3 separate regions of the Homo sapiens genome follow, and regions 1 and 3 are each linked to region 2. The links come from fine-mapping of genetic effects on gene expression. A gene starts in region 2. Each other region holds a variant in brackets. All regions are shown on one strand. Distances are between the middles of the regions.

Region 1 (10,452 bases), 170 kb before region 2:
TGAACAGGGGAGAAACCTGCACCCAGGTGGAGCTGTTGCGGCTCACTCTGCAGAAAGACAGCAGGTGCCACAACCTGGGATGTCGCCCACTGGGGTACAACTCCATGCCCCACATCACAGCAGGCAGGAGCCCAGGGAAACATCCGGGGTGGCCCAGGACCAGGTCTCACCGAGAACAAGAACAAGGGGACTCTGTGTCCAGCATCCCCCCACGGTGAGAACAAAGCAAGACCAACACAGGGGCCAAGGCTCTGTCTGGCCAGGCTAGGGCTGGAACAACAGGCTCCGAGCAGACAAAAGCGGGCTCAGCTGCCCTGAGCCTCAACTTCCTCACCTGTGCAGGGGGGAAGTGGGGGGCCTGGGTGTGGACAGGCCACCACAAGGGCCTGATGGTGTCGGGGGCCTGGACAGCACTCGCCTAGGAGCAGGGTCATAGGGCTGGAATGTCGGACAGGCCCTGAACGTGGAAGCTGCCCATGGGTTAGTCACAACCTGCTCAAGAGCCCCTGGGCTCAGTAGGGAGAAGGCAGAGACCACTCAGGACCAGAGTCTCCAACTCCAGCCAAGACGAACCTGGACAGAGAAGCTGGTCCCTCGTCTCTGCCCCCAGCCCCCTCTGTGTCCCCCAGGCCGCTCCCCAACCACCCCCCATCCCTGCTGCTGTTACCCAGCGGCCTCCACTGTAACGCATTTCTTACAACTTCATTCCAAATCTGTGTATTAGAAACAGCCTCCTCCAAATCCGAGGGTTTTTAGGCTGCTTCCCTGTGTGCTATGCGACACGTCCACTCCCGTTTGCTTTGCCTTGCCAAGTTCTCGACCTTCTTCTCAAATGTTTCTATCCAACCTCAGCAGGACATGGCCGTGCGGGGCTGGGAGACGCTCCGCACCTGCGCGTCTTGCATTTCTTTCAAAGTCTGTGTCTCTTCAAAATCTGTGCCGCTTCTTCCACGAGGCTCCCGCTGCCGTCCGCATGCTGGTCACTGTGCAGGATGCTCTGAGACTCACACTGCTCAGGCTCAGGACTGAGGTGCAAGACTCCCGCACCCACGGGAATATCCCATTTTCTGGCTGCTTGCCTAAATTTAGACCAAGTGTAAAGGCCTTTCCTTTCCCTGTCAATCAATCCCCAACCTGAGCTGCCCCGATAAAGGTAACGTGGCTCAAATCCAGCCACACACACAGGGAGGCTGGTCAGCTCAGCTGCAGGGCCCCGTGGCTCCCTATGCGACTGGGCTGCTCCTCCCAGGAAGCAGCATCTGGGAACCCGGAACACAGAGTGATGGCGGAGTGCGCCCCAGGGCCCACCCAGCACGGTCGTCACCCCGGGCTCTGGCCTCAGCACGCCCCTCTCCAGTGGGGGCTCTGGAGGGGCTGGAAGCCCAGGGACAGGGAGACTTCTTCTCCTGGGCTCTCACTTTCCAGGAAGCTGGCAAGTCCCTAGGCTCAGCTAAGTGGTTTCCAACAAGCTCCTTCTTCCTCACAGCAGCCACACTCTCCACTCAAAAGACCAAACCTCGTTCACATTCTCCTTGGCCTGGGCGGCTCTTGCTGTCTGCACACCCAGGCTCCCCTTGCAAGGCTGGTGTCTCTTCCTAGTGAACTGGCTCCGACCAGGGCTCAGGGCTCTGAACACATGCAGGCCCCACGGCACCCCAAGGATGCTGGGTGGGCCTCGGCTGCCTCGGGCCAGCAAGAAGTAGTCACGCCCCTTCCTGGGCTCCGTCTACAGAAAGCCGCCCACACCACTCACGCCAGGCTCCTCCAGAACCATTTCAATAACAGGCGCAAGTCCTCGTCCGCCCGCCTCTCCAGCTGACTCTGGCATCCGGCTTTTCCTGTGGACTCATTTGGCCTCAATGCTTCCACTCCAGGTCAGACACCTTGCCTGGAGGGCTCCCCACAGGTCAGAAGGGTCCGCAGGCCCACGTCCACCCCATGCCGCCCCACACCACCTGGCCACAGCCCAGACCCCGGCTGCATTTGCTTTGCTGTCCGGGAACTCCAGAGCCTTCTCGGCTGACTTCTCGTGGGAACTTTGCTCCCCGCCCAGGTCCAGCCCAGACCCCGGTCCCCTCTCCGGCCTCTGTCCCACTCTCCTGCAAGACCCAACCACACGCCCAAGATGTGACGTCATCACACACAACATGAGTAACCTGGGGCCCCCCATTCACAGGCGAAGCTGACCAGTGACCAGATGTCAGGGTCAGAGGGCACAGCAAAAGCAGCCCCAGCATGATGTGGGGTCGTGGGGTCATGGGGTCCGTAGCTTCTGGGAGCTGACTTCTGGGCCCGTCTATGGTCTGGATGAGGCACAAGCTGACGTCAACAGAGCCAGCTCCTGCTCTGTGTGGGATGAGGCGGGGTCAGGTCTGCGTCCCCGCAAGGCCAGGCTGGTCCCAGGGACCCGCCCCACCCTGCAGAGCCACATTATGTGGCTCTTGGCAACGTGTAAAGCACAGCTTTCCGGCCTGTGTGTGTAAATTACTGTACATGCAGGTTCCCTGTGAAACAGGACTCGCTGTTTAACATGTGCGTCCTATAGTGAACTCATGACCCTGGCATTGATGTAGCCACACCACATCTCACAGTGCGAGAAGACACCAGGGTTATAGCTCTCAAGATTCCTACCTATAAACCCGCAGGAAGTTTTTGGAATAAAGGTGTTTGAAAGCAGCCATACCTGTCTCCCCACATTCTCCTGGAAGGCGGCCTGCGGAGCAAAGAACAAACACAGCAGGTGAGCGAGGTCAGCTTCCGCCAACACCAGAGGCAAGTTCAGAACAAACAGCACAACGTGAATGACCCACGGCTTTATTTTTTAAATAAAAGCCCTCATTGTTGGCTGAACAGAGCCTCAAGGTGCGTCACTCTGTTTTTACGTCCTGGTGCTCTTTAAAACCACAATTTAAGAATTCAAGTTTATAAAATCAGACACATCCTGAAAAGTGGCCTTTACCACTGAGCCTCCCAGCAGCACCCACGCGGAGGCCCCGGCTGTCAACTCAGAGAGACAGACAGGCAGGTTAAATCAAAGCCCAGAGCCCGAACACTCTTCCTCAGGAGTGAGGCAGCTCATGGTCACCAACTGGCACCACGTGCCGCCCTCCAGGGAGGGCGCCCTGCCCGCACCCATGGCACGGTGTCAATAGGCTCTCCAGGCCGAGTCCCAGGGCCGGGCACAGGCCCAGAGCAAGGGCTGCTGAAAAGGTCAAAATGTGAACTTCAACAGGATGAAGTGCTTCCAGGAGGCCTCTCATGTCCTCCCCAAACACCCTGCCCCCCTTAGGCGCACCGACCAGGCAGAGCAGGTTACCTGGGCAAGGTGACAACCACACCTCCCTTCCCATGTGTCACCAGCTGGTGCCCCGTCCTTCCCAAAAGCACCCGGGCTCCGAGTTCTCAGGGCTGGAGACACAGGAGACTTCAGTGTCCCAGGAAGACCCAGCAAAGTGCACCCACGGCCACACCACACACACCACCAGCAAGGGGCGAGGCCAGGGAGGCTGGCGGCTTCAGGGACCACGCTCTGGAGGAGCGACCTCCCGCCTGGCAGGATTCCTGCCAACACTCGCCTGGGGGCTTCCTGAGAGCAAGGTTGAGCGATGGCTGCTGGGAGGAGCACACACAGACGGGCACCAAGTAAGGAGCCGAACACAGCCACCCAGGGTCTGTGCCCCCACCCCCCAGGGAAAAGGAGCAGACGCGCCCACCACCTCTGGCCAATCACACAGAAACCAGACGTGCGGGTGGCTCCAAGGCAGACCCCTGGGCTGGGCTGGAGATTGGAGGAAACAGGCGCTTCACAGCAGGCTGGGAGGAGGCCTGACTGCTGCTTTGCAAATTTGTAACTTTTGTGATAAATTCATTAGGAAAGTAAGAAACAAAACCCGCCAAAAGGCAATGCAACAAAGATATACTGTAACATCAATTTAACATACACTATTAGGAAGACATGTACCATTCCAGTGGTATCTAAAAGATGTTTTAAAAATTCAAGATTTATGTGGAAAAGCACAAGCCCTAAAACAGGGAAAACAGTCCTGAGAAAGAAGACGCTGGGAGGCATCTCCCTGCCCAGTGCGAAGGCTGACTATGCACAGCAGCATCGCAGCACAGCCCGTCACACAGTGTGCGCTGGCAGAACAGACACGCAGACCAACCAGCAGAACAGAAAACACGGGACAGCATCCCCGGGACCGGGCGAGGTGGAGTTCCCAGACCTTAAGAAAGTCTTCACGTCTTAAAAAGCACTAAAAACATGAGCCACAAAAACAAAAAACTGATCGAGACCCCAGCAAAATTAAAAAATTAAAAACTCTTGCCCTATGAAGAGGACGGAAAGATGAGCTACAGACTGGGAGAAAGCCAAACGCAAATCCAACAGAGGACCAGAATCCTACATATGTAAAGAGTGCCCTAAACTCAA[G/C]AACTACAAAAAACAATCCACTTAGAAATGAGTAAAAGACCTGAGCAGACATTTCACCAAAGAGGAGGTACAGACGGCAAGTAAGCCCGTGAAAGATGCTCCACACCATCAGGCATGACAGAAACGCAGGTAAAGACCACAACGACGTATCACCACATGCCTGTCAAAAAGGCCGACACAGAAAACAGTGGCCATGTCAGACACAAGCGAGGACAGAGAAAGGCAGGGCTGCGGGCAGGTGGTGGTGCGAACGTGAATGGTGCAGCTGCTCTAGAAAGCAGTTTAAATGTCCAACTACCACGACCCAGAAACTACTCCTGGCATTTAACCCAGAGAAATGGAAGTTACACTCACACGAAAACCTGAGCACGAATGTTTACAGCAGCTTAAAGACTAGAAACCATCCTGATGTCGTAATACATGAATGGTCACACAAACCACGGCACCACTCAGCAACAGAAGCAGCAAACCAGCACCACCCACCACGCTCGGGGTGGGTCTCCAGAGAGCTGTGCCGAGAGAAGAAAGCTACAGCATTAGAGGCCACAGAGTCCATTTACACAGCATTCTCGAGATGACAGAATAGAATAGGCAACGGAGAGCCGACCGGTGGCTGCCAAGGGTCAGGAGAGGGAAACAGCAGGGACTGTGGGCAAAGCAGTAGCACAGGCCTCTCGGGAAGACAGGGCTGCTGTGTATCCTGATTGTGGTGGTGGATACGTGAATTTGTATGTGATACAATCACACAGAAGTAAACGCGTGAGCGCACGTGCGCGCGCGCGCACACACACACACACACACACACACACACACACACACAGAGTACAGGTAAAACCAAGGAAGAAGGAATAAGACTGGTGGGTTGGCTCAATGTTCTAGGCTGTGATGTTCCATTGCGGTTTTGCCAGATTTCATCATGGAGGCAATGGTGAAACACGCATGGGCTCTCCCTGCATTAGTCTTTAAAACTCCATGTAAATCTCCGCCAGGCACAGTGGCTCACGTCTGTAATCCCAGCACTTTGGGAGCCGAGGCAGGCAGATCACTTCAGGTCAGGAGTTCGAGACCATCCTGGCCAACATGGTGAAACCCCGTCTCTACTAAAAATACAAAAAGTAGCCGGGCATGGTGGTGCACGCCTGTAATCCCAGCTACTCGGGAGGCTGAGGCAGGAGAACTGCTTGAACCCGGGAGGCCGAGGTTGCAATAAGCCAAGATCGCACCACTGCACTCCAGCCTGGGTGACAGAGTGGGAGGGGAGGGGAGGGGAGGGGAGGGGAGGGGAGGGGAGGGGAGGGGAGGGGAGGGGAGGGGAGAAAACTGCATATAAATCTCAATTATCCCAAAATAAAAAGTCACAAATAGAGGTCAGACACTATGTATCAAACGAAATGCTGGAAGAAAAAGATTTAAAATCTTCTCAGTTAAATGTAGGCTTTAAGTGCCTTTACTTTAACTGTGAGTGAACGGGGCCCCATCTCCCTTCCTCATGATGAACAAGAAGCCACGACCACACCCCATCTCTACTGCCCATTCCTTCCCCGCCGGGAGACATGTCTTCTTGCAATGTCAGCACGTTTGGGGGTCTGCTAGATTCCTTCCAATATGCAGAAAAACCAGCATTCAGCAACGAACACAGCTGGAACTGTTTTCACAAACTCACTCACACACTGACTGCCTGAGTCGCCATGCTCCTGCCAATGCTGAGAACCAGCTGCAGCACCTTCCTCACAGCGTTGCTGGGAGGGTCACAAACCATGGGATGGACGACCGCGGCCAGTCTTGACATGGGAGCACCAGGGCAATGCAGGGCGTCTAGAGTTCAGGGGCAAGGGACCGTGTCCAGCCCCAAGGAGGGACAGGACTTCAACGCCTTTTGCTGCTGCCTCCTGGCCGGTGCTGAAGAGGCCTCAGGGCCTCACAGGGGTGACCTCACCCAGTGACACAGCGTCAAACAGGAAGCCAAGCTGAGCCAGAAAGACCGAGACATTGTTATCTGAAAGCAGCAGCTCCAAAAAATGATTCCCAATTATGAGGCCCTCAATCCTCACATTTCCAACTAAGCTTCAAAAAGGTGTCTTTTACCTTTGGCTGTTTTAATTTTGCAAGCTACAGGGTAAGCTAGGTGCACTCGGTGGTATTTATCAGAAAAGATTTATTGCCAATTTAAAGGGATTTTAATGTGAAAAATGATTTATATTATTTCACTTCATATTCAGGGTTCATAGAAGCCTAAGTACTTTAATTTTATTACTGCTTCCCATGAAATGTCTTAGGTTGCAGTAAAGAAAATCTAAAAGCTTAATTTAAGTACAGATTTAACATAAAATTGTATTATATTTCAAAGTCTTACATTTACTGCCTTTGGGTAAATAGCAGGGCAAAAATGTGATGATTTCCCCAAAAAATTATGAGGTTTTTACTGATGCTGAAGACAAAATAAGAGCAGCTTCAGGGACAGAGAAGAGCTTCTGAGCTCTCCTGGTGAATTCTCTCTAGTTTTAAAGGACCTGAGGCAGAGAAAGACTTCTAACTACTTCAGGATACAGAGAGCAGGCAGACCACCAGAAGCTATAGAAGATGACAGACATTTTGAGCTAGAAAGACTTCAGGGTATCATCTGAGCTCCTGCATTTGAGAGAGAGAGAGAACCAACACTGCACCTGCACGGCCCCACTCACCAGGGGCCACACACTGCAGGGCTGACAGGAAACCATCACCGGTCCCAGCACCCCTTCCGCCTGGTCCCACTCACCAGGGGCCACACACTGCAGGGCTGACAGGAAACCCTCACCAGTCCCAGCACCCCTTCCACCTGGTCCACTGGCCCCCAAGTCTGACAGTATCAGGGAGTGTGAACGGCTCCCTCAACAGGTTCCCACTAAGCCAGCTATGCTGAGCCTGCACACAGAGTTCCAGCAGCTCGAGCCCATGAGGAACTGTGGGGCCCACCCCATCACCAAAAGCCAACCTCACCCCTCCATCTTTCTCAAAGGGCTGCCTCTCTGTTCTTACCCTCTTAAAACGTGTTCAGCGTCTTATCTGTATCTGAAATAAAGACTCTTATCTTGAGACTGGTCCACCGTCTCAACTGTCCGCTCTCTGTGGTCCCAAGAGACACAGGCCTCACTCCAGCCCAGCTCTGAGCCAAATGAAGTAGTCTGCTCAGCGCAGCAGCAGTTGCTACAGCTCCTCACACCCAGAATTCACCCCAAACGTCACAGGGCTCTCTCTAGAGGAAACCAGCCATCTGTGTTCAAGACGCACCCGGTCCTGCAGGCAGCTCCCACATCCAGCAAGGCCCAGGCGAGTGTGGCGGGTGAAGCAGAGCTGACCACTGCTCGCAACAGCCCCTCCCGAGGCTCAAAGCCACCCGGTGAGTGACCCGTCCCGCCGCCACATTCTGGCCACCCTCGCAGAACCCACTCTCTTCTGCGTCTTCAGCGTGCAGCTGCCTGCACCAAGACCTGTCATCGGGCACCTCCCACTCGCCTCCATCACCCATCAACCCCCAGCAGTGATGGCTGCAGCTCTGGGGATGCTTAACCCTGACCGCCCTTCACACGCTGAAGACGCCCAGAGACAGTAAGAACCAGTGGCCTGCCCGCAGCTGGCACTCTCAGCAGCTCCCTCGCGGCTCCTGCTGTGGATGGGTGAGCTGGCCAGGCAGCAGTGCACAGAGGAGCATCAGGGAGACCAGGCCCACCCCCCACCTTCAGGAAAGGAAATATCAAAATGAGAAAACTTACAGAGGCTGCTCTTCTGCAGTTTATGTCTCGGTCAAACACCGCAGCAATCACCAGTGCACTGTGAAAAAGAGAAAGGATTAATTAAAAAGAAATTCTGCAAAACAGTACAGACCACACAGTATCGATGAGAAAGCCTTTCTCTCACGACTCAGGCCCACTTGAGGTTCAGACATGCCCCACAGGCAACACACAGCTTGAGGCACCCAGGGACTGCAGACAGACACATGTGACCCCCAAGACACCAGACGCCATGTGGGAGCTGGGGGTGGCCGACCCTGGTTCTAACGAGAGCCACGAGACGGTGCACACCGAGGGCACAGGATCAAAGAGCCACGAGGACAGGGCCTGGGGGCAGAACGCACCTGGCCTGCTGTGGTGGGGCGGCGCAGGAGGTGGGGAGGTCCAGTGAATGAAAAGACAGAAACGGAGTGCCCTGGAGGACGAGAACTGGCAGCGTTTGGACAGGGGGGCAAACCAAGGTGGCCGACACAAATGCCCCGGGGCAGGGGCTGTCCAGGTCCTGCAGACCACGCCATGCACAGAGCCTAACCCTGCAGAAACACATGAACACCCACCGTGCCCAGAGGGACCTGAGGCCCTGAAGACAAGGCGTCTGGCAGAGGCCCCTTCCACAGAGTGGCAGGAAAACCACCGCACCACACACAGACGCCAAGGCGCTGCCCCCATGCGAGCCACACTCAGAGCAAGGCCTCTCCCGGCCCCCACCAGGCTCCTTGGGCTTCATTATGTCCTCTTGTGAGATCACCCAGCTCAGTTACTGTGAATAACCCAGAACGCTCTCATCAGGCGTTGCACAGAACACAGGGGGTTTGGGGCAGGGTGGAGGACAATCATCCTTTCTAAGGAAGGCTTGAGAGATTGCGCCTCCTACCAGCCTAAAGGGAAAAGGTGGAAAACAGAATTTCAGACACGCGGAGATAAGCGGCCTCCAAGGCCGCCAGCGCCTCCGAGGTTCCTGGTTTCCAGGTCTTCCAGGGGCCAAGTGCTCTGCCTTGTTCCAGGGAAGTTGACAGACCTGAGCCGTGGGGCGGGGCCCGCGTCAACATGAAGGACGCCGGGGACATGCACGGGGGACAATGGTGACGCCAGGTGTGCGTCCTCTCACCAGCTCTGCTGTTAAGCTAAATGTGAAAGATACATCCAGCTAAGGAAAAGTGAGCAGGTCCCACTGCAGAGAGAGCAAGCTCCGCTCCAGCCCGGTAGGGCGGGCACCGTCACCCGCTCCAGCCTGGCAGCGCAGGCACCGTCACCCGCTCCAGCCTGGCAGCGCGGACACCGTCAGCACCACATCCTGACTTCCGGGGCGTGTGTGTGAGGCGCCGGCCCTGCCAGCCACAATGCACATGACATCCCGTCTGTTCTCCTGTGTCTCGCACTGTCTGTCGCCCCAGACCCAGACCCAGACCCACTGGCCTTGCTCTCCGGTTTCACAGCATCCCGCCTGTTCTCCTGTGTCTCACGCTGTCTGTTGCCCCAGACCCAGGCCCACTTGTTCTCCAGATTCACAGCATCTCGAGCCTGTTTTCCTGCATCTCGCACTGTCTGTCACCCCAGACCCACTGGCCTTGCTCTCCAGGTTCACAGCACACCTCTCAGGCAAGGGGCTCACGTATCCTCATGTTCTCTGCGCTCCTCTCTCCTCGGCCCCATGAGTCCCCAGGGCATGGGCTCGGGGATGCTGAGCTAGGAGACCTACAAACTACAGCCACAGAACTGAAACTCGGGGGCATTTATCAGAGAGAGCACTTGTCCCCCAGCCTCCAGTGCTGGGCACAGGTGCCCGCTCCAGGCCCTGGAGATGGCCCAGAACACGCCACAGGGCCACAGTCTCCTCCAGCATGTCCAACGTCAGGGGCTGGGGGGGAATGGGCTTGACAGCGGGGTGCTGGGCACAGACTGAAGGAGGCAGGAGAAACAGGTGGGAAGGTCCCATGGGTGCGAGTGGGTCTGAGTGAGCAGCCCACAGAGGTGAGCCCACAGCAAACAAGGAGGAGCAGGACAGCTGGCCCCAGGGCCGGTTGAGAAAGTCCTCCCTGCGGCTGGACTCTGCACTTCCTCGGAGAAGCTGGGGCATGTGACTCGGGCCTTGTGACCAAGTGCTCTGCTGATGGGGATTTGGGACGCCCAACCATCCAGGAGCCCCAGGAGAGGCCAAAGGTTGGGTGGGGCAGCAGCCAGATGGCCAAGAGGGCCTGGGTTCTGGGGAAATGCCTGCAAGTCTCACAGGCTCTGCCTAGGAGGGAGGGAGGGAGG
Region 2 (10,452 bases):
ACGGTGAAACCCTGTCTCTACTAAAAATACAAAAAATTAGCCAGGCGTGGTGGCAGGCGCCTGTAGTCCCAGCTACTTAGGAGGCTGAGGCAGGAGAATGGCGTGGACCCGGGAGGCGGAGCTTGCAGTGAGCAGAGATCATGCCACTGCACTCCAGCCTGGGGAACAAAGCAAGACTCCTTCTCAAAAAAATAAAATAAAAATAAATAAATAAAGAGGAAAAAGAATCTGCCCCCAATCCATCAGAAAGGATGGCTCTCAGTGGCAAACCTGGTGCCATGTGTGTCAGATAAACTATTGTGCTTTGAAATAATCTCAGGCAGGGTGCAGTGGCTCACGCCTGTAATCCCAGCACTTTGGGAGGCTGAGGTGGGTGGATCACCTGAGGTCAGGAGATTGAGACCAGCCTGGCCTACATGGTGAAACCCCGTCTCTACTAAAAATACAAAAATTAGGTGGGCACAGTGGCATGCACCTGTAATCCCAGCTACTCAGGAGGCTGAGGCAGGAAAATCGCTTGAACCCAGGAGGCAGAGGTCACGGTGAGCCAAGATTGCACCACTGCCCTCCAGCCTGGGGGACAAGAGTGAAACTCCGTCTCAAAAAAAAGAAAGAAAGAAAGAAAGAATCTCACTCCTCTGCAGTCTCCCTAATTCAAGGAAAATCCCAATGGACTAAACTCCGTTAAGACTGGAAGAGACAGGACAGGCGACCTGGGAGGCCTCTCAGTGGATCCTCACCACACAGGCCGCCTGGGTGGATCCGTCATGGACCCTCACAGAACAGACTAACAGCATGTCTCCGTCTCCTACAGCAGGCCCCTGGTGATCTGTTCCGATCATCAGCAAATCTCCCCACATTTACCATGTGGGCTGCACACGGATTCCAAATGTCAGCAGATTAAAATACCGGAAAATTCCCTCGATCCTGACAGCGCGTTATGCTCTGGAAAGGTCAGACATGATGGCTGTAATTCTGAGCCTCAAGTATGACTGTTTTACAGGAACAGACCCTGGGTTAAAGGTCTTGCCTTTTACAGACAGCCAGAGAGCCTCTGCTTACACTCTTCTGGGGAACGAGAGGTAAAAGTAACTGTAACACTAGGGGTGTCTTGTGTCCAGCAAATGTTTTCATCTTTCAAATGCATTTAGGACACAACAGACGCATCACAGTCACTGTGTTCAGTGCACCGTGAGATGCGGCTCAAGGCCGACATTCCCTTGCTCTGCCATCAGCCCACGTCCGACCCTCCCACGGCTGCTGCACGGCCCCCGCTCTGAGCCCACACCGGCTGAACGTCCTCCTCTAGGCGGGAGCACCCGTGGCCCGCGCAGTGCCATACCCACTGTGCCCGCCTCCTTCAGGCGCATCTCTCCAAGCTTCTTGTTATCAAGGTGTAAATCGGCCAGCTGGGCTCCAAGCTTTGCAGCATGACTGTCAAATCAAACGACAGCAACTAAACAGATGACACACAGAATGGCAACACACCCACTGCTCAGTCTCAGGGCACATAAAGAGGGTCAAACTTTTTTATTTTTTTGAGATGGAGTCTCGCTCTGTCACCCAGGCTGGAGGGCAGTGGCACGATCTCGGCTCACTGCAAGCTCCGCCTCCCAGGTTCAAGCGATTCTCCTGCCTCAGCCTCCCGAGTAGCTGGGATTACTGGTGCCCGCCACCATGCCTGGCTAATTTTTTTGTATTTTTAGTAGAGGCAGGGTTTCACTGTGTTGGCCAGACTGGTCTCAAACTCTGACCTCAAGTCATCCGCCCACCTTGGCCTCCCAAAGTGCCGGGATTAGAGGCGTGAGCCACCACAGCCGGCTAGTAGGTCGGACATTTTGAGGACAGAAAGTAGGTTCTGGTGAAGCAAGAGGGGGATAAAGGTGTTGATTATTTGACGATCTTTCCCAGCCTCATCCAAGTTTGCAGTGGTTTTTTTTTCCTCTTTTTTGAGACTGAGTCTCGCTCTACTGCCCAGGCTAGAGTGCAGTGGTGCGATCTCAGCTCACTGCAACCTCTGCCTCCTGCGTTCAAGTGATTCTCCTGCCTCAGCCTCCCGAGTAGCTGGAATTAGAGGCGCCTGCCACCACATCCAGCTAATTTTTGGATTTTTGGTAGACATGGGGTTTCACCATATTGGCCAGGCTGGTCTCAAACTCCTGACCTCAAGTGATTCACCCGCCTCAGCCTCCCGAAGTGTTGGGATTCCAGGCGTGAGCCACCGCGGCCGGCGTGCAGCGAGGCCTTTGGTCAGCATCTCACTTTGGGAGATTCCTCTTGCTTCTGCCCTTGGTTGCAGAGAGTGCCTGCCGTTCATTCTGCAGAACTCATGGTATGTGGAGTCACGGGTTCTTTGCATTACACTCCTCAAAATGATGTCCCCAGTACAAGCTTCAGTCATCAGAGAACCACTTGGTGGAAAAGAAAGCCAGCTGGGGGCTGGTGTGAGGGTGCACCTGCTCAGATGCTCAGATAACAAAGCCAGCCGGGGCGGGGCATGAAGCCAGCTGGGGGGTGGTGTGAACACACACCTGCTCAGATAATAAAGCCAGCCAGTGGGTGGTGTGAAGACACACATAATAAAACAAGGTGTGAAGACACACCTGCTCAGGTAATAAAGCCAGGTGGGGGGTGGTGTGAAGATGCACCTGCTCAGATGCCTCATGTCCATGTGCTCCATCACCAGCACGCTCCCGCCGCCTGGGGCATCCAGAACCTTGATGGGCTTGGGCACTTTCACCGTGTTTGTTTTCAGGATGGCAGTTAAACTTGCCATCTCACCTTCAAACATTCTTCTGGCCTGTCAGAAAAATACGAGAGGAAGTGGAAATACAGGGAGGCAAGGTTACTTCCGGAAGGTTCTGTAGATATGTTTTCCTCTAGCATTACAACTTCAAACCAAGACTATCCTGACTGAGGATTCCATACACATGGACAGTGTTTTCAAACACACTTGCCAACAGGGTAGGCTACAGGTTCAGAGGCTGTACTGGAAGAAGAGGGCTTGAGCTTTCCAGTGTTGGACTACACTTGTGTGCTGTGGTTGAATTGGGAGGTTCTCTGGAGAGAGGAAAATCGAAGGCACTAATATTCCACTAAGATCCGGCAACAGTGGGACTGTGAACATGGGTTACCTGTCAGTGTCCTCAGACGACACCTCAACTGCAGTCCTGTTCCACCTACAGGACACAGACTCACCCGACCTCTCAGGTGCAGGCGGCACCCTGGCTGCCTATGCCAGTGACCTGGGGTCACTTTTCACCTGAAGAGACCACCAAGTTCCATGCCACCTCCTGCCCAGCACTGGAAACCACCTCATCTTGAGATGCCGTTTCCATCCAACTCCCCGGGACCACAGCAACTCCTCCCTTGGGTCCCCCTGGCTCACCACACAGCAGTGATCCCTAGAGTAGAAGTCAGAGCCAGCGGCCTTTCCTTTCCTCCTGCTACACACACCACTGCCCTGCCTGCTCTCCCATCCTCATCTGGGGCTCCACCCTTACACACACAGACACATAACACACACACACAACATATACAGACACACAACACACACACAACACATACAGACACACAACACACACAACATACGACTTACAGACACACCATACACACACAACACACAGACACACACACACAACATACACAGCAGTGATCCCCGCAGAACAGGTCAGGGCCAGCGGCCTTTCTTTTTCTCCTGAGACACACACCACTGCCCTGCCCACTCTCCCATCCTCACCTGGGGCTCCACCCTTACACACACACAGACACACAATACATACACACAACATACAAACATTACAAACATACACACATACAACGTACACACACACAACATACACATAGACACACACACTCTCCTCGTGCTCCTGACTTCCAGCTGTCTTCATCCTTCTTTCAGTTCTTCAGAGTCCCCACCTCCTCAGCCTCAGAGCCCCACCACAGCTGCCATGTCACCGCTGCTAGGAACACTCTTTTTTTTTTGAGACGGAGTCTCATTCAGTCACCCAGCAGGCTGGAGTGCAGTGGCGCGATCTCGACTCACTGCAACCTCTGCCTCCTGGGTTCAAGCGATTCTTCTGCCTCAGCCTCCCGAGTAGCTGGGATTACAGGCGCCCGCCACCACGCCCAGCTAATTTTTGTATTTTTAATAGAGACGGGGGTTTCACCTTGTTGGCCAGGCTGGTCTCGAACTCCTGACTTCGCGCTCCACCCACCTCTGTCTCCCAAAGTGCTGGGATTACAGGCGTGAGCCACCGCGCCCGGCCCGAGAATGAGTCTAACAGAAGGACAGAGCATGCCAGGGTGTGGTGAGGCGCAGCAGCTGGCCTGGGGGCAGCACCTTCGCCCCGTTTCACAACGTACTGACCGAGGCTCACGGGGGATGGACACCTCCAGAGTCACTTAAGCTGAGGACTTAAGCAGCTTCCCCGGCTAGAACGACCCCACTTAACCAGCACCGCAGGGCAGGAACCCCGGGAGCAAGACTGCAGCAGCCAGTCCCGCCCCATTTCACGTAGCGCCCCCGAGAGAAAGTTCACGGAGAACAGGAGGTGTGGGGCGGCCGCGGTTCCTGCTCCGGACAGTTCCCCGCAGGTGCAAACTCCTCCGGACGCCCCGGACGCTTCCGCCGCCCCCGTTCACCGCTCGCCCCGCGCAAAGGGTTCCCCGCAAGGGGCGGCGGCGGCAGTCCCGGGAGAGCCACCCACGGCCTCCGGCGGGAGAAGCCCAGGCCGCGCCCCGCGCCGAGGCCCGCGACCCTCTCCGGAAAGAAACCGGTCCCCCGGCCCGCCCGACCCGCTGCCTGACCTCCGCCTTGGGGTTCACTTTCACGAACACTCGTCCTTGATCCGTGTCGTAGCTCCGGCCCTGGCTGATGCACCCGCCCCCCGAGTGGCCCGTGGCCCTGACAGAGCTGCAGCCCAGCTCGCGCCTCAGGAGCTCCTCCATGTTCCCGCCGCGGCCGCGGACCCGCCCCGGATCTGGCGGAGACTCGAGAGACGGCGGCCGAGCGGGCAAACATGAGTCCGCGCGAGGATTGGGCGGGGGGCGGGTGGGGGCGGGGCCCGGCCGCAGAGACAAGCGCTAGGATTGGGTGGCGGGAAGGGGCGGGCGTGGCCGCAGAGATGAGCGCTGGGATTGAGGGGCGGGAAGGGGAGGGGCCGGGAGGCAGGTAGGCGCGGGGGATTGGGTGGGGGTGAGATGACGTCAGGGGGCGGGGCCTGACCGACCCCGACCCAGACGGTTTGGGTTCAACTCTCCTGCACAAAATAAGTGGAAATGCTGATGGAAATAGTTAGAATATATTTTCTAAAGAGCTGACCCACTAGCAAGGGGCATCAGCCCAAGGTCTGGGTGCCGGGAGCCCAGAATGTTAAGATTGCTTTCGCCCGGGCGTTTGCTGAACCCGAGGAACAGAGCTCCTGATGTGGGGAGTGGCGGGCGCGCTCGGGGTGCACGTGCAACGGAGACACCGCCCCTAAACCTGGGGCCCTGAGGCTAACAGCTAACAGTGGCCCTGCCGTTACGGCCAGTGTCAGGTGCCAGCTGGGCTGGACCAGGAATTCCCAGAAACCTGGCAAGGCATGATTTGGGGTGGGTCGTGCTGAGGGCCACACCATCCGCTTCCCCGCTTCTGAGGCCTTCCGACCTGGGCTGAGCCCGGCTACCCGAGTCCCGGGGTCTCCGGCTCACAGACTTCTCGGCCTCCGTAATTGCAAACGCCAGCTCCCCCAGTCCATCTCCTGTCCTGGATCTACGTCTATATCCTACTGGATCCGTCTCTCTGGAGAACCCTAATACAGCTGTCAACACAAGGATGAACTAACTACAAGAAGGCCTGAATAGGAACTCTCCCAGGGGACGAAGAGGTTTCAGCCTTCAGCAAAGGATGGTTCATAGAAACCGTTCGCATAGTCGGCCCTCCACGGACTGCAACCCTAGTTAATATTACCTACAGTAAACAAAAAATTCAAGTATAGATTTTAGTCTAAAGCAAATAGGAAATGTCGCTTCCCTGGACGTTGGGAGAAGCAAACACGAATCCTCTCCTGAGGCCGGAAGCGGTGGCTCACGCCTGTAATCCCAGCACTTTGGGAGGCTGAGGCGGGCGGATCATTTTATAACTATCTATTAAATGGTACATATGTGTGTGTTCACGCACTTTTCTGTGTGTATACCGCATTTCATAATTTTAAAAAGCAAAAAAGATTAGCGGGGCGTGGTGGCGGGCGCTTGTAATCCCAGATACTCGGGAGGCTGAGGCAGGAGAATCGCTTGAACCCGGGAGGCGGAGGTTGCAGTGAGCTGAGATCCCGCCATTGCACTCCAGCCTGGGTGACAAGAGCAAAACTCCGTCTCAAAAAAAAAAAAGGCAAAAAAGAACAGATGAAAATCCGCAGATGGTAATAGATAAATCAAGGAACACATTAGAGAAGAGTGAGAGAATTAAAAGGTGCTCCAAAGGCGGTGGAGTGGGTGAACCACTCCCTGTATGCTCCTCCCCTCGGGCCAGGGCCTGCGGATGTCCCTGTTTTAATCTGTGGCCTTGACCGTTTGGACATTTTAACTCCATGCCATGAACATGAAGATTTTCATCAGAACTATGCCACCGTTAAGTTTTTGTTGAGAAACTTTTTTTTTTTTTTTTTTGAGATGGAGTCTTGCTCTGTCGCCCAGGCGGGAGTGCAGTGGTGCAATCTCAGCTCACTGCAACCTCTGCCTCCCAGGTTCAAGCGATTCTCCTGCCTTAGCCTCCTGAGTAGCTGGGATTACAGGCGCACACCACCATGACTGGCTAATTTTTGTGTTTTTGTGGAGATGGGGTTTTGCCATGTTGGCCAGGCTGGTCTCAAACTCCTGACCTCAGGCGATCTGCCTGCCTTGGCCTCCCAAAGTGCTGGGATTACAGGCATGAGCCACTGTGCCCGGCCGAGAAAGCATTTTTAGGAGTGACTTTTGGGCCGGGTGCGGTGGCTCACGCCTGAAATCCCAGCACTTTGGGAGGCCGAGGCAGGTGGGTCACAAGGTCAGGAGATCGAGACCGTCTTGGCTTATTCGGTGAAATCCTGTTTCTACTAAAAACACACACACACAAAAAAATTAGCCACACGTGGTGGCAGGCGCCTGTAGTCCCAGCTACTCGGGAGGCTGAGGCAGGAGAATGGCGTGAACCCGGGAGGCGGAGCTTGCAGTGAGCCGAGATCGCACCACTGCTCTCCATTGCACTCCAGCCTGGCAACAGAGCGAGACTCCGTCTCAAAAAAAAAAAAAAAAAAAAAAAGAGTGACTTTTGGCCAGGCACTGTGGCTCACGCCTGTAATCCCAGCTACTCAGGAGGCTGAGGCGGGAGAATCGCTTGAACCCGGGAGGCGGAGGTTGCAGTGAGCCGAGATCGCACCACTGCACTCCAGCCTGGGTAATAGAGTGTGAGACTCCATCTCAAAAAAAAAAGCAAAAAAGAAAAAAAGTGACTTTCATCTAGCTAATTTAATTCCTAACCAATTTTCTTTTTTGTCCATTCAAATGGTTTATAAATGACTTTTTCCATTTTCATTTTCAATTGAATGATATTATCTTCATCATATCAGTTTAAGTTTTCAGTCCATTTTTCCTGTCTACATGGAATTGCCGACTGCACAAAGAACACATGAGGGCTCTCTCAAGGCCATCATTTCCGCGGAGTCCCATTTCCTGACTCAAATGACAAGCTCTCAACTTTCTACTCAAGATCATTGAAACATCTGTGTTGATTATTTGTAACCGGGATATGCTTTATTTATTAGATAAGAGACTAACCGTTGGTGCGTTGATGAGTTCATCCTTGAGATGTTGTGTGTTGTTCTGTGGCTGAGGATGTGGCCGTGGTGTTGCTGGCCCCACACATCTGCGCGTTTCTGGGTCTTGCACACGCACCCACACTGCAGGCCTTCACTCCCGCGTCCTGCTTTGCTCTGTCCTGCTCTTGCTGTCTTTCTCAGACTTTCCGTTCCAGCAGCGTTTTCCTCCTCTGCAAATGAGATTCTCTTCCTGGTGTCCCAAGGTCAACATCCCCAGTAATTCACTCCTCCTGAGGATGGCTCCAACTCGCTTCTCTGCCCACACCTGCCTTGTGCTTGGATGCATGTGCACACAGAGTCCCTGCCTGACTGTCCCCCTTGTGGCAAGCCCCTGGGTCACTCTGCATGTGGCACCCACAGATGGCGGCAGCAGCCTGTCTGGAGCAGTCACTACATAGACATGCGACACCCACAGATGGCGGCGGCCAGTCTGGAGCAGTCTCTGTATAGACATGCGACGCCCACAGATGGCGGCGGCCAGTCCGGAGCAGTCTCTGCGTGGGCACGCGACGCCCACAGATGGCGGCGGCCCGTCTGGAGCAGTCACTGCGTGGGCATGCGACGCCCACAGATGGCGGCGGCCTGTCTGGAGCAGTCTCTGCATGGGCATGCGACGCCCACAGATGGCGGCGGCCTGTCTGCAGCAGTCTCTGCATAGATATGTGACACGCACAGATGGCGGCGGCCTGTCTGGAGCAGTCACTGTCATGACACCAGCAGCAGTGGGGAGGTGGCGCCGGGGCTGCGTGCTCCACGGAGCTGGTGGGAGCCAGGAACAGGCAGAAGCCACCCACCTTCCAAGCCAGCAGGGAGAGAGCCTTGTGCTCCCCAGGTTCAGTGGCAGCTGCCCAGCCATGGTTCCAGATCTGCGCATTCCTTTGCTCTTGGGGGTGGGAGTGGGCAGGAACCCCATCCTCCTGGGTGCAGGTGCAGCTTCCCAACCATGGCTGAGAAGGGGCTGAGGGCAGCTCCTTGGCACAATCAGCCTGGACGCCATAGATGACGGCAGGAGGCAGAGAGGCTCTTGGGTGGAAAGGGGCAGGTCCACAGTGAAGGCCCACCCTGAAGCCAGGGATGGCCTGAAGCCTGGGAGCTGGGCTGAGGGACCAGAATGGGAACTTATAGTGCTTTGTCCAGGCCCACCCATGGCCGCCCATGAACCAGTCAGCATGCACTTCCTCCCCTCTGAAGCCTATGAAAACCCCAGACTCAGCCAGATTTGAGGAGATGACAGGATGACCTGCCTGCAGAGAGGAGCTACCCACTCCAGGGTCCCCCCTCCGCTGAGAGCTGAGCAGATGCTGGAACTACCAGCTGCAGAGAGGAGCTACCTGCTCCAGGCTCCCCTCTCTGCTGAGAGCTGAGCAGACATTGGGACTGCCAGCTGCAGAGAGGAACTACCCATTCCAGGGTCTCCTCTCTTCTGAGAGCTGAACGCTAGCTGGGATGCCCTGCCTGCGGGGAGGAGCTACCCACTGCGAGTCTCCTCTGAGCTGTTCTGTTGCTCAGTAAATTTCCTGCTGGCCTTGCTCACCCTCTACTTGTGCCCATACCTCATTCTTCCTGGATGCAAGACAAGAACTCGTGACCTGCCAAATGGCAGGGCTAAAAGAGCTGTCACACAAACAGGGCTGAAACACGTCCCTTGCTAACAATGTTGTGAGTGACAAGAAGGAGAGAAGAGAGAGGGAGAGAAGAGCTGTGTCCCTTCGGGAAGCCCAGACCTAAGACCTCCCCAGCCAGGCCTGCGACACCGTCTCTGAGGCTCTGCGGCTCCCGGCGTCTCCAAGTTTCTGGGTGCCCCTGCATTCCCCCGTGCCAGCCATGGAACCTGCTCATGGTGCACCTGGTCCAGCTGCAGCCTCGCAGGGAGCCAGCGCCCCCAGTGGCACCCGAAATGGCCCGCTCTACCATAGCCGGTGTGCCTGGCTGTGCGCAGTGGCCAGACCTCACGATTTCTCCCTCACACACCCCTCGCCACTCCATGCCTGGCAGGTGTGAGATTCATACCAGTAGCATGAGCTGAGCACAGCCTGTCAGGCCAAGTGCACTGAATGAGCCCAGTGGGCCTGAGTAAAAACTTGGGCAAAGGTGCGACTGGCCACAGAGGTTTCCAGCTGGCGAAGCAACACCCCAAGGATCCCGTGACATTGCCACCGAGCCTGGTGCCCCCACCCAGAGCCCGGCGCCCCCACGACACCGCCGCAGAGCCTGGTGCACTCAGAAAGTGTCTGCCAGCCAGGTGCAGTGGCTTGTGCCTGTAATCCCAGCAGTTTGGGAGGCCGAGGTGGGCAGATCACCTGAGGTCAGGAGTTCGAGACCAGCCTGGCCAACATGGCGAAACCCTGTCTCTACTAAAAATATAAAAAGTAGCTGGGTGTGGTGGCGGGCACCTATAGTCCCAGCTACTCAGGAGGCTGAGGCAGGAGAATCACCTGAACCCGGAAGGTGGAGGTTGTAGTGAGCTGAGATTGCACCACTACACTCCAGCCTGGGTGACAGAGCGAGAGTCTGTCTCAAAAAAAAAAAAAAAATAGTGTCTGCTGTGCCCAGGATGGCCCAGGGTGGTCGTGGAACTTGTGGCACATTTTCCTCTTGTGGCTCCCTGAGATGC
Region 3 (10,452 bases), 110 kb before region 2:
CACCTGTAATCCCAGCTACTAGGGAGGCTGAGGCAGGAGAATCTCTTGAACCCAGGAGGCAGAGGTTGCAGTGAACCGAGATCGCACCACTGCCCTCCAGCCTGGGCAACAAGACCAAAACTCCGTCTCAAAAAAGAAAGAAAGAAAGAAATATGAATAAATCAGTAGAGAAACCAGTTTGCTGAGAACAAAATCAGAGCACTTCCCCAGAGTTCGGGGCAGCCATATGAAAGCCCAGCCACCACCCCTGGCCCCTGGCGTGTGGGAGGAAGGACACGGGTGCAGGGAGGAGGGGTGGCGCCTTGCTTCAGGGACAGCTGCCTCCTAGGCTCCCACACACGTTGCTCTATTTTCAAGGGGCGGCTTTTCACTTGACTTTTAGCCACCCTGATGTCTACACATAAAACCTCACAGACTCAAGAATGGGCACATCTGCCCATTCCTTAAAAAAAATACTGCAGTTGAAACAGTTTTCTTAAGTCATTTCCATTTAGCTTTTTTTTGAGGCAGGGTCTCATTCTGTTGCCCACCAGGCTGCAGTGCGGTGGTGGGATGACAGCTCCCTGCAGCCTCAATCTCCTGGGCTCAAGGGATCCTCCCACCTCGGCCTCCCAAAGTGCTGGGATTACAGGCATGAGCCACGGCCCCCAGCCCTCCATTTAACTTTACTTTAATGTATTTTTTTTTTATTATACTTTAAGTTCCAGGACACAAGTGCAGAACGTGTAGGTTACACAGGTAAATGTGTGCCATGGTGGTTTACTGTACCCATCAACCGATCATCTAGGTTTTAAGCCCTGCATGCATTAGCTATTTGTCTTAATGCTCTCCCTCCCCCCGACCCCCACCCCTAAACAGGCCCTGGTGTGTGATGTTCCCCTCCCTGTGTCCATGTGTTTTCACTGTTCAGCTCCCACTTATGGGTGAGACCATGCACGTTTGGTTTTCTCTTCCTGCGTTAGTTTGCTGAGGATGCTGGCTTCCAGCTCCATCCATTTCTCCCTGCGAAGGACATGATCGCGTTCCTTTTTATGGCTGCACAGTATTCCATGGTGTATATGTGCCGCATTTTCTTTATTCAGTCTATCACTGATAGGCATTTGGGTCATTTAACTTTATTTTTAAGCTGTTTGAAAATATTTAGACCCTAAAGACCTTTTCTTTTTTACATTTTTAATACGAATTAAAGTGCTTAGCCTTGATCCATTGCACCTCCACCCCATCTCCCACTCACCCTGTCTCCCAGGCACAGTTGCTGCTTGAGTCGCTCCAGGCCCAGCTGCCAGGTGGACAGTCCCAGACTCTCAAAGCCTTTGTTCTGGGACGGGTGCGGTGGCTCACGCCTCTAATCCCAGCACTTTGGGAGGCTAAGGCAGGTGGATCACCTGAGGTCAGGAGCTCGAGACCAGCCTGGCCCACATGGCAAAACCCCGTCTCTACTAAAAATACAAAAAAAATTAGCTGGGCATGGTGGTGGGCGCCTGTAATTCCAGCTACTCGGGAGGCTGAGGCAGGAGAATCGCTTGAACCCAGGAGGCGGAGGTTGCAGTGAGCTGAGATTGCGCCATGGCACTCCAGACTGGGCAACAAGGGAGAAACTCTGTCTCAAAAAAAGAAAAACAGCCTTTGTTCTCAGCCTTGGGCGTGCGGCACAGCCTCTGAAGGAAACCTGAGGCTGGTAAGGGGGACACAGAGACCCTCTGGAAGAATCCAAAAGAGCAGGCCAGCTCTGACATCACACACACAGCCTCTGGTGGGTCCCAGGACCTGAGTGGGTGTGGCCAGAGGGCTGAACCCACTCCCTAAAGGTTAAGGGCCAGGACAGCTTCCTCCCATGACCCAACCATCTCTAAAGCGGATACTACTCACTCTGGTCTCCTCTCGGGCAGGAGTGTGGCAAAGCTTTGGTTCTTCCATTTGGTGGTGCATCTGGACGGGCAGGCGCTGCTGGCCATGCCTCCTGGCCAGCAGGAACCGGGTGACCGTGAAAGCATGTCTCACAATGCTGCTGTCACTCACAGGATGTACAAATTCACCAACAGTATTTCAACCATTTAAGTCAACATAAATATAGCATTTGTATTCATATCTGAGACAACATAAATGCTACTTAATGATAAAGCTGACTTTAGAAGCAGTAGGGTAGAGTCTTGTGTTCGAATGTTCTTCATTTTTAAACAAGCACACTAGAATACACCAACGACGTGGCTAAAGTGGGCAGAAACTGCCACGAGTGCTTAGGGATCGGCCCCAGGGGAGGCAGCAGCATCCATGGTCTTGGGTTCTACAGGCCGACGGCAGGGGCGCACAGCACTTGGGAGAGCTCCCAGCCAGCAGGTAGGAGCAAGTAGACGGTGGCCAGCCCACGCTCTGTGTAAAAGTGAGGGGCACTCTGTGACTGTGGGTACATGTTAAGGGGAAACAGCCACAAACCCCTTCGTATTTCACGTGAGAGTGTGGCCGATCACACACCCACTGCTTCAAGCGTGTAACCCCCAAGCAGAGTCGGGCAGCCCTGGGACAGGACTCTGTCCAGACCCTGGGAGGGGGCTCGGTGTCCTCAGCCCCCGGCAGGGCGCTTTCGAGGAAAGGTCCAGGTCACAGGATGAAAGTTCCCAAAACTCAAAGGCTTACAGGCATTCTCAGAACAGACACTCAACGCACCACACACCACACTCCACCTCTAGGCCCCGAGGTGACTCTTTCAGATCAGACTCAGAAAACAGAAAACACGGTGGGGAGTCAGCAGCCAGGTTACCAAGGGTAGGGCAGGGCTGCTTCTGTGACCGGCAGCTGCTCCCCTCAGGAGCAGGCAGTTTCAGCCCTTCAGGGGTTCTGCTTCAGGGATCCTGTGGCACTGTGGCGAGCCGAGGCCGGCTTCTCGCCGACCCCTCACTCGCTGTCCTGACACCAAGACTGCTCTTTATTACAGCTCCCAGCCGCCAGATGACGGAGGCTCTCGCCAGACCCTCAGCACGCAGAGCTGGCTTCTGATAGAAGTGATCGGGAAAGAAAGCAAAGCGGGAGGTGCCTCTTTAGAAACCACGAAGTGCACGCGGCGTCGACAGTGATCACGCCACCTGGACAGCCAGAGTCCAAGGCATAAGGAGGAAAATGAGTCTCCTCAAAGAGCGGAAGCCAAAAAAGCCACATTACATCCCCAGGCCTCCAGGAAAGCCCTTCAAGTATAAATGTTTCCAATGTCCCTTTACTTGCAATGAGAAGTCACATCTTTTTAATCACATGAAGTATGGTCTTTGTAAAAACTCGATTACTTTAGTATCAGAGCAGGATCGAGTTCCCAAGTGCCCTAAATCTAACTCACTAGACCCCAAGCAAACCAACCAGCCCGATGCCACGGCGAAGCCAGCCTCTTCCAAGTCTGTCGCAAATGGACTCTCTGCCTTCGACTCGAAGCTTCAGCACAGCTCTGCCAGGGAAGACATCAAGGAAAACCTGGAGCTGCAAGCCCGGGGAACCCACAGGTGCCTGGGACAGAAGCCAGCCCTCCACAGGGCATCACCCTGCAAGAGCCCAGCTCCGGAAGCCGCCCTCGGTGCCCAGCCTGCTCTGGAAGGCGCAGCTCGGCCTTCTGCATTTGTTCCAGTCGGCGAGCACAGACTCAAGGGGCCAGACAACGCCGAGGCGCCCGAGACACTGGCTTTACACAACCCCACTGCCAAGGCCGTGTCTTTCCACACCAAGTCGGCCTTCCACACTCCTGGCTACCCCTGGAAAGCCGGCTCACCTTTCCTTCCACCAGAGTTTCCACATAAAATCTCATCTACAAAGGGGCTTGGGGCCATTTCCCCTTACATGCACCCCACAATCCCAGAGTACCCGCCTCACTTTTACACAGAGCACGGGCTGGCCACCATCTACTCGCCTTACCTGCTGGCTGGGAGCTCGCCTGAGTGTGACGCACCCCTGCTGTCAGTCTACGGAACCCAAGACCCGAGACACTTCCTGCCTCACCCGGGGCCGATCCCTAAGCACCTGGCTCCATCTCCAGCCACATACGATCACTACAGGTTTTTCCAGCAATATCCCTCTAACCTGCCGATTCCTTACGGATTTTACAGGCCAGAGTCTGCATTTTCCTCCTATGGTCTCAGACTCCCACCTGTCACTGGCCTCACCCGAGATCAGAGCTCTCACCTGCTTGAAGAAGCCACCCTGGTCTATCCAGCCTCGAGTCCTTCCAGGTTAAACCCTTCGGACCCCAACAGAAAACACGTCGAGTTCGAAAGTCCAATTCCTGAGGCTAAAGACTCCTCCAAGGCTGGGCAGAGAGACACGGAAGGGTCCAAAATGAGCCCCCGCGCAGGGAGTGCAGCCACGGGCTCCCCAGGGAGGCCGAGCCCCACCGACTTCATGCAGACGAGCCAGACCTGCGAAGGCCTGTACGACCTCTCCAACAAGGCAGCCTCCAGCGCACTGGGAAGACTCTACCCGCCAGAGCAAAGCCTCACAGCCTTCAGGCCTGTTAAGAAAAGCACAGAATGCCTACCTGCCCAGGCTGCTGAGACCACAGCAGAGTCTCCAGTAAGGTAAGAAAATGTCATTTTCAAAACCTCCAAGGGAATGTTTCTGGTTGGGTTCCATGAGCCAGGCTTATACTTGCTCACACTGCTTCACGCAGTTGCTTTTCTAAGCAAGCTCCTACTAAGCTTTTTCTTGGCTTCTTCTAGCCTCAATGTTGTGAACGGAGACCCTCCTGCTCCGACCGGAAGCGCCTCTCTCGTCTCGGAGGCCGCGCCTTCCAGTCCGGACGACAGCTCCGGGATGGGCCCCCTCAACCTCTCCAAGAAATCAGAGATAAACCTGGCAGCCACCCACGAACCCACGTACCAAGGCAGCCCCCAGGCGGAAACCGCCAGCTTCTCAGAGCTGCAGGACCTTCCACTCAATCTCTCGGTGAAGGACCCCTGTAACACCCAGGCTCCGAGGCCTGCCTTCCCCGGTCGACCACGAGCTGCAGAACCTGCTGCTGCTGTTCCACAGAAGACTGGGACAGAAGGTTCTGAGGATGGGCCCAGCCACCCTGAGACCAAGCCAGGCAGCCTCGACGGTGACGGGGCCCCACCCACAGGCCCCGGCGAGGAGGCTCCAGACGCATGCGCGGTGGACAGCAGCGAGGAGCAGAAGCAGACGGCAGCCGTGGCCCTGTGCCAGCTGGCGGCCTACAGCCCCAGGAACATCCGGGTGGGCGATGGGGATGCTGCGGCCCCGGAACCTGCCTGCCGGCAAGACACACCCACACTGAGCTCCATGGAGAGCCAAGAGGCCCAGTGTGACCTCAGACCCAAAGGACAAAAGAGGACAAGTCTAAGGGATGCTGGAAAATCCCAGCAAGGAGCTAAGAAGGCGAAGCTGCAGGACACGGCCAGAGTGTTCACACTACGAAGGAGGGCCCGGGTGTCCTAACGCCGGGTTCACACGTGTGTTCACAGAGCTACGGCCACACACACGCCTTCCAAGGTGGCAAGCTACAACACCTCTGAACTGGCACTTTCACATTTTTACAAATGCAGCTGCTGCTTCTCAAAAAAACAAACAAACAAACAAA[CAAAA/A]AACCCTCCAATTCAGTTTTTATAAATATTAAGCATGAATATTAAAAGGTGCTTCTACTTTTGGTTGTAAAAACACCTGAATGACTCTAAGACTGATATGTATTTTCAAGTCTAAGCTGTCTTACAGAAGATCTTTTATAAATGTTTCCTTATAAATATCTCACCATTACAACAAATTGTTTTAACTGTTTTTCTATTAGCTCTAGCTGCATATTTGATGTAAATGACAATTACTGAAAAAATGTCAGAAAAAACATTTTCAGTACTAACATTAAAGTGCCATATGTAAAAAAGAAAAATGTGATTTGTATAACTAAATAACACACAAACATCAAGAGGCTATTTATACAAATAATTTATTTCCACTAGGGAAAGTGCATTACTGGTGAAGGTATTATCAATTTATTCTACTTGCTTATAATGTTACAGTGAATGTTCTGGCTTACTCTGCCTCACTTTCCATTCCCCAAAATGATGTGTATGTTGCTAATTTTCCAATAAACTCATATGAACCATAAGGAAACATAAAATGCAAATAAACATAAATCTATGTTATCCTTTAGAATATTTTGCCGTAACAGTCAATGAAAAAGAGCTGATAGCTGTGGCAGCGATTAACCTGTGAACGGGTGCGTGTATGCACATTCAATTGTGTGGGTGTACACGTGTGCTATCTGTGTGGGGGGGGTGTGCACATTCGCCCATGTGGGTGTGCATGTCTGCGAGTGCGTGTAGGTGTCTGCTTGTGCATGTCTGCAGATGCACGTGCACATTTGATCGTGTGGATGTGTGCATGTGCACGTCTGCGGGTGTGGGTATGCGCTTGTGCATCTCTGCGGGTGTGTGCACATTCTATTGTGTGGGTGTGCACGTGTGCATATCTGTGGGGGGTGCGCATTCAATTGTGTGGGTGTGCGTGTGTGCTATCTGTGGGTGTGTGCGCATTCGATCCTGTGGGTGTGCGTGTGTGCATATCTGCGGGGGTGTGTACACGTGATTGTGGGGGTGGGTATATGGGATTGTGTGGGTATGCACGTGTGCATATCCGTGGGGGGCATGCACACTCGACTGTGTAGGTGTGCATGTGTACATACCTGCGGGTGTGTACACATTTGTGTTAGTGTGCATGTGTACATATGTGGGAGGGGTGTACACATCTGATTAGGCGTGCACATTCGATCCTGTGGGTGTGCACATGTGCATATCTGTGTGGGGGTGCACATCTGATTAGATGTGTGTGTGTGCATCTCTGGGTGTGTGCACATTCAATCATGTGAGTGCATGCGCATTATGTATGGGTGTGTGCACACTCGATTCTGTGGGTGTGCATGTGTACATATCTGCAGGTGTGTGCGCATTCGATTGTGTGGGTGTGCATGTGTGCGTACCTGCGGGTGTGTGTGCATTCAATTGTGTGGGTGTGCACGTGTGCAATCGGGGGGGGCACATTCCATTGTGCCGGTGTGCACGTGTGCATATCTGCGGGGGGGGTGCATTCGATTGTGTGGATGTGCACGTGTGTGTATCTGTGGGTGTATGCATATTCAATCGTGTGCGTGTCCACGTGTACATATCTGCGGGTGTGTGTGCATTCGATTGGGTGTGCATGTATCTGTGAGTGCACATTCAATCGTGTGGGTGTCCACGTGCGCATATCTATGGGTGTGTGTGTGCATTAGATTGTGTGGGTGTGCACGTGTGCCTGTGGGGGGGTGTGTGTGCATTCAATTGTGTGGGTGTGCACATGTGCATATCTGTGGGGGGCGCATTCAATCGTGTGGGTGTCCACGTGTGCATATCTGCGGGTGTGTGCATTCGATTGTACGGGTGTGCATGTGTGTCTGTGGGTGTATGCACATTCAACTGTGTGGGTGTGCACGTGTGCATATCTGCGGGGGGGTGTGCATTCGATTGTGTGGATGTGCACATGTGCGTATCTGTGGGTGTATGCATATTGAATCGTGCGTGTCCACGTGTACATATCTGCAGGTGTGTGTGCGTTCGATTGGGTGTGCATGTGTGCGTATCTGTGAGTGTATGCACATTCAATCGTGTGGGTGTCCACGTGCTCATATCTATGGGGGTGTGTGTGCATTAGATTGTGTGGGTGTGCACGTGTGCCTGTGGGGGGGTGTGTGTGCATTCAATTGTGTGGGTGTGCAAAGGTGCATATCTGTGGGGGGGCACATTCAATCGTGTGGGTGTCCACGTGTACATATCTGCGGATGTGTGCATTCGATTGTACGGGTGTGCACGTGTGTGTATCTGTGGGTGTATGCACATTCGATTGTGTGGGTGTGTGCTATCTGTGGGGGTAGTTGTGCACATTCGATTGGGTGTACACGTGTCAACGTGCATGTGTCAGTGTGCACATGTACACGTGTGTATGCACTTCTGCATCGTGCATGTGTGTGAGCGTGCATGTGTGCACATGGGTTTAAAGCAGTGGTCAAGTACCGGCATGTGCGAAGCACCCCTGGGGCTACTCAATGGCCATCCATGGGGTCCTCAGGCTTCAGAGTGCTTTAGGAGCGTAGACTTCCGGAGCCTCAGCCCCTAAGGCTCTGCTTGAGAAAGGGTTTCTCCATCCCCATGTCCCCTCTCACAACAGCCCTTTCTCTCACTTTTCAAGAAAGGCAGCCTCTCACCCAACACACTGGAAACCATGCAGTGGACACTACGATGGGAACTGCTCCAGAGACTGGGAAATGCTTCCCCATGCAGGTGGCTGTCAACGCATCACTTCACAGGACTGAGGCCACCCTACTGAAGCTGCTCAGTGACAGAGCACAGAGGTCAGGCGTGAGCTTGGAAAAAGTTGAAACACCAGCATTGCTAAAGCAAAATTTCTGCCATTCCTAGCTACTTGAATAAGACTTGAATGAATAAGACTTCTTAGCACTTAAAACTGAAAGTAAAAATAGGGGCCGGGCGTAGTGGCTCACACCTGTCATCCCAGCACATTGAGAGGCCAAAGCGGATGGATTGCTTGAGGTCAGGAGTTTGAGACCAGCCTGGGCAACATGGAAAAACACCGTCTCTAATAAAAATAGTCAGCCAGGTGTGGTGGCACATACCTGCGGTCCCAGCTACTTGGGAGGCTGAGGCGGGAGGATGGCCTGAGCCTGGGAGGCAGAGGTTGTAGTGAGCCATGATCACACTACTGCACTCCAGCCTGGGTGACAGAGTGAGACCTTTTCTCAAAAAAAATACATAAATAAAAAGCAAAAATTGTACTGTTGCAGAACCTTGCCTTATTCTGGTTAAAAGCATGGCTCACGGCCAGGCATGGTGGCACACACCCATAATCCCAGCACTTTGGGAGGCTGAGGTGAGAGGACTGCTTGAGCCAAGGAGTTCAAGACCAGTCTGGGCAACACAGGGAGACCCCATCCCTACAAAAAATACAAAAATTAGCTGAGCAATGGGATGTTTGCCTGTAGTCCCACCAACTTGAGAGGCTGAGGCAGGAGGATTGCTTGAGCCCAGGAGGTCAAGGCTGCAGTGAGCCAAGATCATACCACTTCACTCCAGCCTGGGTGACAGAGCAAGAATCATTTCAAAAAATAAAAACAAAAAAAGCCTGACTCATCAAAAGATAACTCAAACTAAACAGCTATCTTATTAAGAGCTAAATTTCAATAATATGCTATTTTATGTTGTTTTGGTCAACTCTGTACTCATAATTTTTTAAAACCCAATCTAAAAAAACTTCTAAGTAACTAGCACCTTAAAACTTAAAAGTATAGTTAAAAAAATAATAAAAAAAAAAGGTCATGAACACCTGTGGAAAAAATAAATAAATAACTAGCATCTTATGGCCATACAAAATGCAAAAGTTGAAGTTTATGTTTATGTTATTTTCTTTCGTTGCAGATAAATGATAGATCAATAAAGATTCTTAGGCACAGAAATACATTACATTAGGGTAAAATGCTCTGGGAAAAAAGTAAATGGAAATATGGGCTTAAGAAGAAAAAGGAAGAATAAAATTTCTGTGAGAGAAAAACTTGCCTATGAAATTGTTTTTTAGACAGGGTCTCGCTCACTGGCCCAGGCCGGAGTGCAGTGGCGCGATCACAGCTCACTGCAGCCTCAACCTCCCGGGGCTCAAGTGATCCTCCCACCTCAGCCTCCCAAAGTGCTGGGAGTACAGATGTGAGACATGGCGCCCAGCCCTGTAAATTTTTTAACGAAGAATGGTAGATTATTCTACCTCAATTTCCCAGATTTATTCAGATGAGTGACGCAATAGTTTTATTTTAAAATGACAATACTCAGGATGGCAAATAGTTATTTGCAACTGGTTAGAGTTCTATAAAACTTGTAAGAGGGATACAGAGTTTGTCACAATTCCAAGGGGTATCTGAGGACACTGCTTCAAGCTGTCCCTAAAGCAGCAGCAAGGACACCAGCAGGTCCCCCAGCCCTGTCAGGCACCCACCTCAGACAACCACTACACCAGCCTAAAAGGCACACGGTCAGACGCAGAACCATAAACACAGGCGCAGTGCTGAGTCGCTCACCTGGGCACTTCTGTTTATATACACCAGTATGTTTTGGCAAAGAACAAAAATATTATACTTCCAGCTTTCAGAAACTAAACAGCCGTGCAGGGAGCCGTGACAAGACATCACATGCCACGGTCCACACTCAGGACCCAAAGCCTCACACCCTGCAGACAAGGAGCTCTCACATCACACCCCCAAGAATACAGCCCTCCGTTGTCAAGGGCCCAAAGATTCTGAGAACACCATTTGATCGCTCACCAAAAAGCACCAGGAATCATCTTAAATGACAAATAGGGAGAAGCAGGGGCAGAGCATCCTCCTGCAACAGGGCAGCATGGAGAACCCCGCCCAAGCACAATGGTTGTGGC

Evidence for each region. PIP is the estimated chance that this variant, and not a neighbour inherited with it, causes the effect.
Region 1: its variant is fine-mapped to the expression of FN3KRP in monocytes after interferon gamma (Fairfax 2014, PIP 0.95).
Region 3: its variant is fine-mapped to the expression of FN3KRP in monocytes (Fairfax 2014, PIP 0.95). The same link has a PIP of 0.9 or more in B cells and monocytes after LPS.

Annotation. Positions count from the first base shown.
Region 1 is chr17:82,881,929-82,892,380 of GRCh38, reverse strand. It overlaps TBCD (tubulin folding cofactor D), which reads right to left. Exons shown (of 39, transcript NM_005993.5): 15 at 8,179-8,236; 16 at 2,684-2,713. Among named protein-coding and RNA genes, the nearest start is that of ZNF750, 47 kb to the right of the region's middle. RefSeq lists enhancers at 6,502-7,300, 8,899-9,696 and a silencer at 7,349-7,398. The variant G/C (reference allele first, on the strand shown) is at 4,430.
Region 2 is chr17:82,711,254-82,721,705 of GRCh38, reverse strand. It overlaps FN3KRP (fructosamine 3 kinase related protein), which reads right to left and starts at 5,000. Exons shown (of 6, transcript NM_024619.4): 1 at 4,810-5,000; 2 at 2,649-2,800; 3 at 1,343-1,434. The coding sequence starts at 4,950. It overlaps LOC101929552 (a long non-coding RNA gene), which reads left to right and starts at 5,453. Exons shown (of 2, transcript NR_136400.1): 1 at 5,453-6,139; 2 at 7,590-7,798. RefSeq lists silencers at 4,674-4,763, 4,844-4,923, 4,944-5,183 and an enhancer at 7,950-8,449.
Region 3 is chr17:82,825,117-82,835,568 of GRCh38, reverse strand. The region is part of intron 13 of TBCD (tubulin folding cofactor D); the gene reads right to left. It overlaps ZNF750 (zinc finger protein 750), which reads left to right. Exons shown (of 3, transcript NM_024702.3): 2 at 2,933-4,550; 3 at 4,692-6,135. The coding sequence starts at 3,115. The coding sequence ends at 5,427. Among named protein-coding and RNA genes, the nearest start is that of ZNF750, 9.7 kb to the left of the region's middle. RefSeq lists an enhancer at 5,970-6,816. The variant CAAAA/A (reference allele first, on the strand shown) is at 5,570.